2 linked regions of the Homo sapiens genome follow. The protein of the gene in region 2 interacts with the protein of the main gene of each other region in a pairwise test. Each region holds a gene or a part of one and is shown on either strand. Other genes may lie near its edges. The genes, in order: SLC23A2 and SLC41A1.

Region 1 (3,819 bases), on a different chromosome or scaffold from region 2:
AGGATGTAGGTTGAATTTTAAAAATAAAATTCAGGGGAAGGGACTATTACCATAGTTTTATCAATAAGACCTTATTAATAAAATCTACCCTGTAGTCCCAGGTACTCTTGGGAGGCTGACGAATGAGAATCGCCTGAACTCAGGAGTCAGAGGCCACAGTGAGCTGAGATTGTGCCACTGCACTCCAGCCTGGGTGATGGAGCGGGATCCTGTCTCAAAATTTAACAAATAAAAAAAAACCTACCATGGAGCCATGATCGATTTCAACACATTTTCTAATATTTGATCATCTGTGAATTCTTGAAATGACGCATTATGCCTTGTTCTTTCATTGTGTTATCTGTAGCAGCATCTTCCCAAACAACATTCTAAGGAATAGTCTGTCAAGATATGCTTATAGATGTGTGACATTTAAAAAACAAATTAAGGGTGGACAGGGCTGGATACTAAGGCCCTTTTCTGAAGGTGAATAGAGTCTTTTGCGCATTTGCATTTTGAAAGATTGGAAGGAGTCTTACAGTAGAGAATGATGCTGAACTTTAGCACGCTACCTGAAGACATTTGAACTCAGGGCTCGTTGCTTAGAATGTGCCGCAATACATCCATCAGCTCAGGATTTGTTTGTTTTTTAACACAACCCCAGGAAAGAAAACAATGGTCCATGGTTCTCCTTTTGTATTAGTTCAGTCAGAATTTGCCGCTAAGATTGGCTGGGGAGTTTCCCTCCTTTCACAGAGCTCTGGAACAGTTTGCAAGTTAGTGCATATAGTCTCTGTTCCTTGAAGACTGAATGCACTCATTGTCTAACCATCTGGGCCCAGGGCTTCTTTTAGGAATCAGAGTCCTTCAGCAACTATCTCGGCTGCTCTTGTGGTCATGGGTTTACCGGGCTTCCTGAGCCTTCCTTTATTAGTTCACAACCTGCTCACTGAGCACCAGCTCAGCCACGGGAGGGGCAGGTGCTGGGGGTGCAGAGGTGACCCACCCAGAGCGTAGGCCCTGCTCTCACAGAGCTGACAGCCCAAGGATACAGAAGAGCTCTTGGAAACTGAAAAAACACCAGAGCATAAATGACAATCTTGGCAGAAGGAATAAGAGATAAAGCAAAGGAGAATTCTCACGAATAGAGAAAAAAGACAAAGAGATAGAAAACAGGAGAGGAAACAGGAAGAGTCCAGGAGGCTTCAGGAAGAGGTTCCAGAAAGAGACAAGTAAGGGTGGAGTGGAGGAAGGCATCTAGATAATTCAAGATCATGTCCCACCTCTGCATGCCTGGGTGCTCAGAGCAAAGGGGCTCCAGGTATCCAGGCCAAGAGACGCAAGCAGACCCACCGAGGGCAGCACGTGAGGCTCCAGACATTGGAACAGTAAGAAAACCCCAAAGCTTCCAGAATTCTAGCTTGTGTCTAACTGATGTTTCAAAAGGAGGGGAGAGAGGAGGACCCCTGGGAGACATGAGGGAGAAGCTGGGGACAGTGAGGAATCAATGGCCAAGGGCGAGCAAGGCTCGCAGAGGGTGGCGGCAGTGAAGGCCTGCAAAAGAGAACGGGTTCAGAATTTGTTCCGGAGGAGGAAGGGCAGGATGGGCTGTGTGGGGGATGAGGCGAAAGGAAGACTGAAGAACAGATAGACATTTCTGGCTGAAGCAACTAGGGGCACGGTTGTGCCATTCACCGAAAGGAGGAAAGCAGAAGAAACTGGTTTCAGGGGCAGGAAAGGAATCAAAAGTCTGGGGCTTTTTCATTTACAGATGGAGATGTCTTGTGTAACAGTAAGTGGAGGGGCAAAATAGGGGCTGGATCTGTAAGTATCGAGTTTACAGGTCTGAACTACAGGTTTCCATGGAACTATCCACCATCAAAGAAATGCGATTTCCTTGGGGGAAGTGCATGGAGAGAAGGGGGCCAGGATCAAGTGTGGAGGCACCCCCATACTTAGAGATAAGAGTGAGGAGGAGTCAATTTTGGTTACTTAAGTTTTCTGAAAACCACTATTTTCTTACTTTTTGTTTTAATTTGGGGGGAGGTAACAGTTTTGCTCCCTCTGACGGGATCTGTGGCAGATCTATGTGCACAGGCTTCCTCTTATCCTGCTTAGCTTTGCCAGAAGTTTGTCTACATTGGGTTTTGTTTCCCCCTCAAGAGATCAGCTTTTAGATTTACCACTTCTATTTGTGTCACATTTTCTGTATCTTTATTAATTCGTTCCCCCTGCTTTTACTAGGTTCATTTTTTTGTCCTGTTTTCTTAGTTACTGAAATTCTTCATGTGCTGTATCTGCTTTAAAGGTTGTGAATTTTCTTGAGAACACCTCTGGCTACTAAGTGTGACTGGTGCTGTTCTTGCCATCATTTCCTAAACTATCAGTAATTAATTGCAAAGTTTCAATTTCCTCTCTGAGAGTGATTTTTAACACTTTTTTTTTTAAGCTTGTAAGTGCTTTGTGGGTTTTGTTCATCCTTTTGTTACTGGTTTCAAATTTTACTGTACTATACCTACAATTTATCCATTTTGGCATTAATTACATTTCGCTGAAAGACTATTCTCACATGCCATCTTCCCATCTCTGCTGGTGTGAAGAATGTTTTGACCAACCTTTGGTGAAATGAGAATAGTAAGAACAATTTTGGGCTGGGCACGGTGGCTCATGCCTGTAATCCCAGCATTTCGGGAGGCCAAGGTGGGCAGATCACCTGAAGTCAGGAGTTTGAGACCAGCCTGGCCAACATGGTGAAACCGTCTCTACTAAAAATACAAAAACTAGCCGGGTGTGGTGGTGGGTGCTTGTAATCCCAGCTACTCGGGAGGCTGAGGCAGGAGAATTGCTTAAACTCGGGAGGTGGAGGTTGCAGTGAGCCAAGATCGCACCACTGCACTCCAGCCTGGGCAACAGAGCGAGACTCCATTGCAAAAAAAGAACAATTTTGGGAAAGCATGATGATGGGTATTCATGCTCATGTGTGAGATGTGTCTCCTTCAAACCTTGTTTAAAGAAAAAAAAAAACTTGATATTTTCACACACCTTAATTTAATTTGTAAAGTGTAGATAACAATTCTGCTATGGTTCCCTTTTATTTGTACGTCATGTTCTAATACACAGAACAGGATTGAGTATGATGGGTTCGGGCCCATGTCCACCACCTGGGTTTTGAAACCCACGGTGGCCACTTAATTCACTGTATGACTCTGGGCAAATCACATTACGTCGTGGTGCTCAGTGTCCTCTGCTGTTAAATGGGATAACACTAGGATGTGCCTTATCTGATACTATATACAAGTGTTATATAAAGGACTGATGCATAGTAAAAGATCAATAAATACCACCTGTTATTAAATAACTGCAGACTATTTCACAAAACAGAGCAAATGAAAAATTCTCTTATGTGATGACTTATTTTGTTTTAGGAGTTGTACTGGCTGGTTAAATTCCAGAGTAATGGAACCATATACCTACACATAATCAACTCTTAAACATGCTCTGCAGACACATAGAGAATGTGGGCTCTGTGTTACAAAGAGTTCTGTGACTCTAATCATCAGTAATATTATCAAACTCCCCTGTGACTTCATTAACACAAAATGTTAACTTTACTTAAAGGGCAAGGGACATCTTTAATGGATGTGACATTCTGTACAAAAGGACAGGCACTGACTAGCAGGACCCTGGCAGAAACTATGTCCCTCCCCCAACCACCCACCCGTCAGGAGTGCAGAGCTCAGTGTGGCCTGGGGAGAAGAGTCACATCATCAATGGCAACAGACCTTTCCCACGACTTCTCTGGAAATACTCCAGATTCCTGCCACTCTGGAATATTTTTGA
Region 2 (3,819 bases):
TTAATCCATCTTAATAACCTATTCACTCTTAAAGGCACCACCTCCCACCACCACATTTGGGGACCAAGCCACAACATGAGTTTTGTTGGGGACAAACTATATTCAAACCATAGTAACGAGGGAATAGCATTATAGGAGTCCAGTGAAAGCTCTGTCTTTGCCCCCAACATGGGGAAGCCAATGCTGAAAAGCAGGGAGGGATTGGGAAAGAAATACCTGATCTCTCTCTCCACCTGCCCTCTGGTTGCCTGCTGTTGCCTCCCACTGAACAAACAGTGGAAGCAGCCAGCAAGGGAGACTGGGTAATGCAGTCTGTGGAGACCAGTCCCCCAGAGCTCAGAGCAAGGCTGAGAAGAGCAGGGAGCAGGTTGGGATGTGAGGGCAACAGAGAAATCAGCACAGGTCCTGGCGGAGATACCAGATTCCAGAGTTTGGAGCTCAAACCTGATCCTTGAAACTGGTTACCAGAATCAGCATATGACCATAGGATGCCTGGGTCTGCTCAGAGCATTGGAGAGGAGGTGAGGCGGTGAGGCAAGGCAGGGCTTCATCCCCTCAGCTGTGTAGGAAGGCAGGTGCCCATGCTCTACTGGTGGAGAAGTCAGGCTCTCTGAGTCTGCAGATCTGCACGTATCCTTTCCGGCACTGTCACAGCTTTGCCAGGGGAACATGGAACTGCTGCATCTCCATAGAGGGGAGGATGGGGGAGGCTGGAAGATGCACTGGAAGCAGGGGTCTTTGTCTTCCTTCTTAGTGCCTTACTCTTCTTTTGGGGACTGGTGAATGGGTGATGCCCACATAGACCCTAAATTAAGACAGAGGACAGTGCCTCTATAGATAGAAGACAAAGAGTGAGAAGATCATTTTGTTCCCACTCCTCCCTCTGACCTCTGTCTGTGTCTAAGCCCGTATGTGTCTCTGCAGGTGTTGGGGGCAATCTGGTGGCAGTGCAGGCCAGCCGCATCTCCACCTTCCTGCACATGAATGGAATGCCCGGAGAGAACTCTGAGCAAGCTCCTCGCCGCTGTCCCAGTCCTTGTACCACCTTCTTCAGCCCTGGTAACGGCAGATTCCCAGCCTCCCAGCCCTGGGGGGAGTGGGCCTACTGTCAGTGAGCTTCACTTAAGAGACAGCTGGGGCCCCAGATCCACAGGTTCTCCTTCTCTGCTGGGCTGTGCCAGCTGTTCTGAAGGGCAGAGCCCAGGCAGGAGGGCTGTCTTTTCCTGGAGCACCCTAGGGGTTGGAGACCACAGGATGCAGAAGTAGAGACATTCATCTGTCTGTTGCCCTGGGGTATGGTGCCGTCCCTCCTGACTTTGAAAGGCCTTCTGGGGCCAGGTCTTCTCCTCCCCTCCTCTTTACACCCTCTTTTCCCCAATTCCAGATGTGAATTCTCGCTCAGCCCGGGTCCTCTTCCTCCTCGTGGTCCCAGGACACCTGGTGTTCCTCTACACCATCAGCTGTATGCAGGGCGGGCACACCACCCTCACACTCATCTTCATCATCTTCTATATGACAGCTGCACTGCTCCAGGTACAAAGTGGCAGGAGCAGGGGCATGGGAAGGAGCCAGGATGCCCTGCAGGGATGGGAGAGGAGGCCAGACTTGGCCTCTTAGACACTCAACCTCCTCTTTCTCTGTGTCAGGGCAGCTGATAAACACCAGACAAGGGTGCAGGAGAACAGATGGTAGTTCCAGTAGAGTCACCAACATGGTGTGTGACTTTGACCCTGTTCTTTTACTACCCTGATCCTCAGCGATACAGTTGTAAATTGAGAGGAATGGACCAGGGGTGGTAGTTTTCATGCAGGTGGTTGTAGGATGCTGAGCCTGTGGGGTTTGCATGCCAACCCCACTGGCCACAGAGCTCCACATGGCTCTGTTTTGCATGTTGAGCTTTCTCAAGAAATTCATTTGCATAAAGCATCCCATAGCTTGAAAAACTGTCAAAACCACTGCACTAGATAATCTGTCGGATCCTGTGTAGCCTTGCCATTCCATAATACCATGACACTTTCTCCCTTCTTGTATTATTACATTGTAAAAGCTTTTTATTTTGAAATCATTACAGATTTGTAAGAAGTTCTCAAAAAAAAGGTTCAGAAATCCCATATACCATTACCCAATTTCCCTCCATGGGAAAATAACATTTTGCATAACTTTAGGACAGTATCAAAATCAGGAAATTAGCATTGATGCAATCTGCAGTGCTTATTCAGATTGAACCAGTTTTACATGCACTCGTGTGTGTGTGTGCGTGTGTGTTCGTTCTATGCAGTTTTTATCACAAGTGGAGATTTGTGTGACCACCACTATAACCAAAATACAGAAAACTGTTTCATCACCACAAGGCTCCCTTATGCTATCCCTTTACAGCTAGATCCACCCTTATTATTACATTTTAAATTTTTATAGGTTTGATTTTTGAATAGTCACATAGTTCAAAAATGTTTTAAGGTTCATAGAGAAACCTCAGTGAAAAGTCTTCTTTTCTGTCCTCTTCTTCACAGCCATCTGTTTCTCTCCTTCACAGACCATCAGTATTATCCCTTTCTTGTGTGTCCTTCAAACCTATTCTATATTTATAAAAGTAAACATATATTTTTCTTATTTCCTTCCTCTTTTTTACACACATGTAGTATACTGTACACACTGTCTGCACCCTGCATTTTTCATTTAAGTTTATCTTTGAGATCATTCCATATCAATACATAAAGAGAACAACACCCTGATTTTCTTACAGCTCCATCATATTCTGTGATACACAGACCATAATTTTATTTCGCCAGTCCTGTATTGATTAACACCTATCCCTCCAGCCCCCTCACCCCCAGCTTTAGAAAGGTTGTGTTCGGACATCTTGGCAGGGGCGGGGCTGAGAATCAGCCATATGCTGTTGCCCTGCAGCAGTTAGCCAAGCTGCCACATTCCATTGCTAGTGGGTTCCAGTGCAGCACGTGGTGGGAAGATGGGGGTGGATATGCCAGGGGTCTGTGGTGGAGGTTTTCAGCTCATCCCTTGGCCTGAATTGGAAAGGATGAGCCTCAGTGCCATCACCCATGATGAATACCCTGGAGACATTCTTGCCTCTGCTGTCCTCTCTAGATCTGTGGAGGGCCAGAGCGTGACACTTGATCCCCTGTAAAGGCTCTTATTGATCCCTTTGCCACCTCCTCCCAGCTGTGTGTCCTGGGGCCTGCTCAAGAAGCTGGAATGTGAGGACAGCTGCTACCATTCCCTTCCTAGGGCATGTCCCAAAGGCCTCCTGGCCATGCTCTTTATTTGGGACCCTTCTGCAGCTGCTGGAAAGGGTGTGAAGTTATGGAAGGTAGGGGAGCCAAGGCCGTGGTAGCACAAGACAGCTGTGTGCAGAGCAAGGGAGAATGTGAAGAGTCATCTCTGGCTTCCTTGGAGAGAGGGCAGGATTCTCTCAGGCAGAGCCTAAAATTTAAAAAAAAAAAAAGAGAGAGGACAGGAGAGCAACCAAGATTGCCTAAAAATAGGTATCAGTTCTGGCTTCTGGATCCCTTAAGGGCTGTGGTTCCCGCATCTGGATCCCTTAGGGCAGAATTTTCATACCACAGTATTTACAAAGTATAGTCAAGGGTAAAACCTCCCAGATGACTGACTGTATTAGAGCTTGACCGTCAGAATCTGTTTCATTCTCACGCAGATGCAGTCATTTAGGGAGCCCAAATGTCAGGCACTGTGCAGATTCTAGGAGATTCAGGCCTGCCCCACCGTGGTATTCTAGATCAAGGGCATCGCCAACTTAAAAGCGCATGTAAATCTTGTTAAATGCGGACTCTGACTCAAGAG

Evidence for each region.
Region 1: the proteins of SLC41A1 (region 2) and SLC23A2 interact in a two-hybrid assay, tested with the Homo sapiens proteins (one large-scale study listed by BioGRID).

Annotation. Positions count from the first base shown.
Region 1 is NC_000020.11:4,879,467-4,883,285, forward strand, and holds part of SLC23A2 (solute carrier family 23 member 2), read right to left. Parts: intron 1-3,819. UniProt on the Homo sapiens protein: Sodium/ascorbate cotransporter. Mediates electrogenic uptake of vitamin C, with a stoichiometry of 2 Na(+) for each ascorbate.
Region 2 is NC_000001.11:205,792,584-205,796,402, reverse strand, and holds part of SLC41A1 (solute carrier family 41 member 1), read left to right. Parts: intron 1-924; coding exon 925-1,059; intron 1,060-1,384; coding exon 1,385-1,533; intron 1,534-3,819. UniProt on the Homo sapiens protein: Na(+)/Mg(2+) ion exchanger that acts as a predominant Mg(2+) efflux system at the plasma membrane.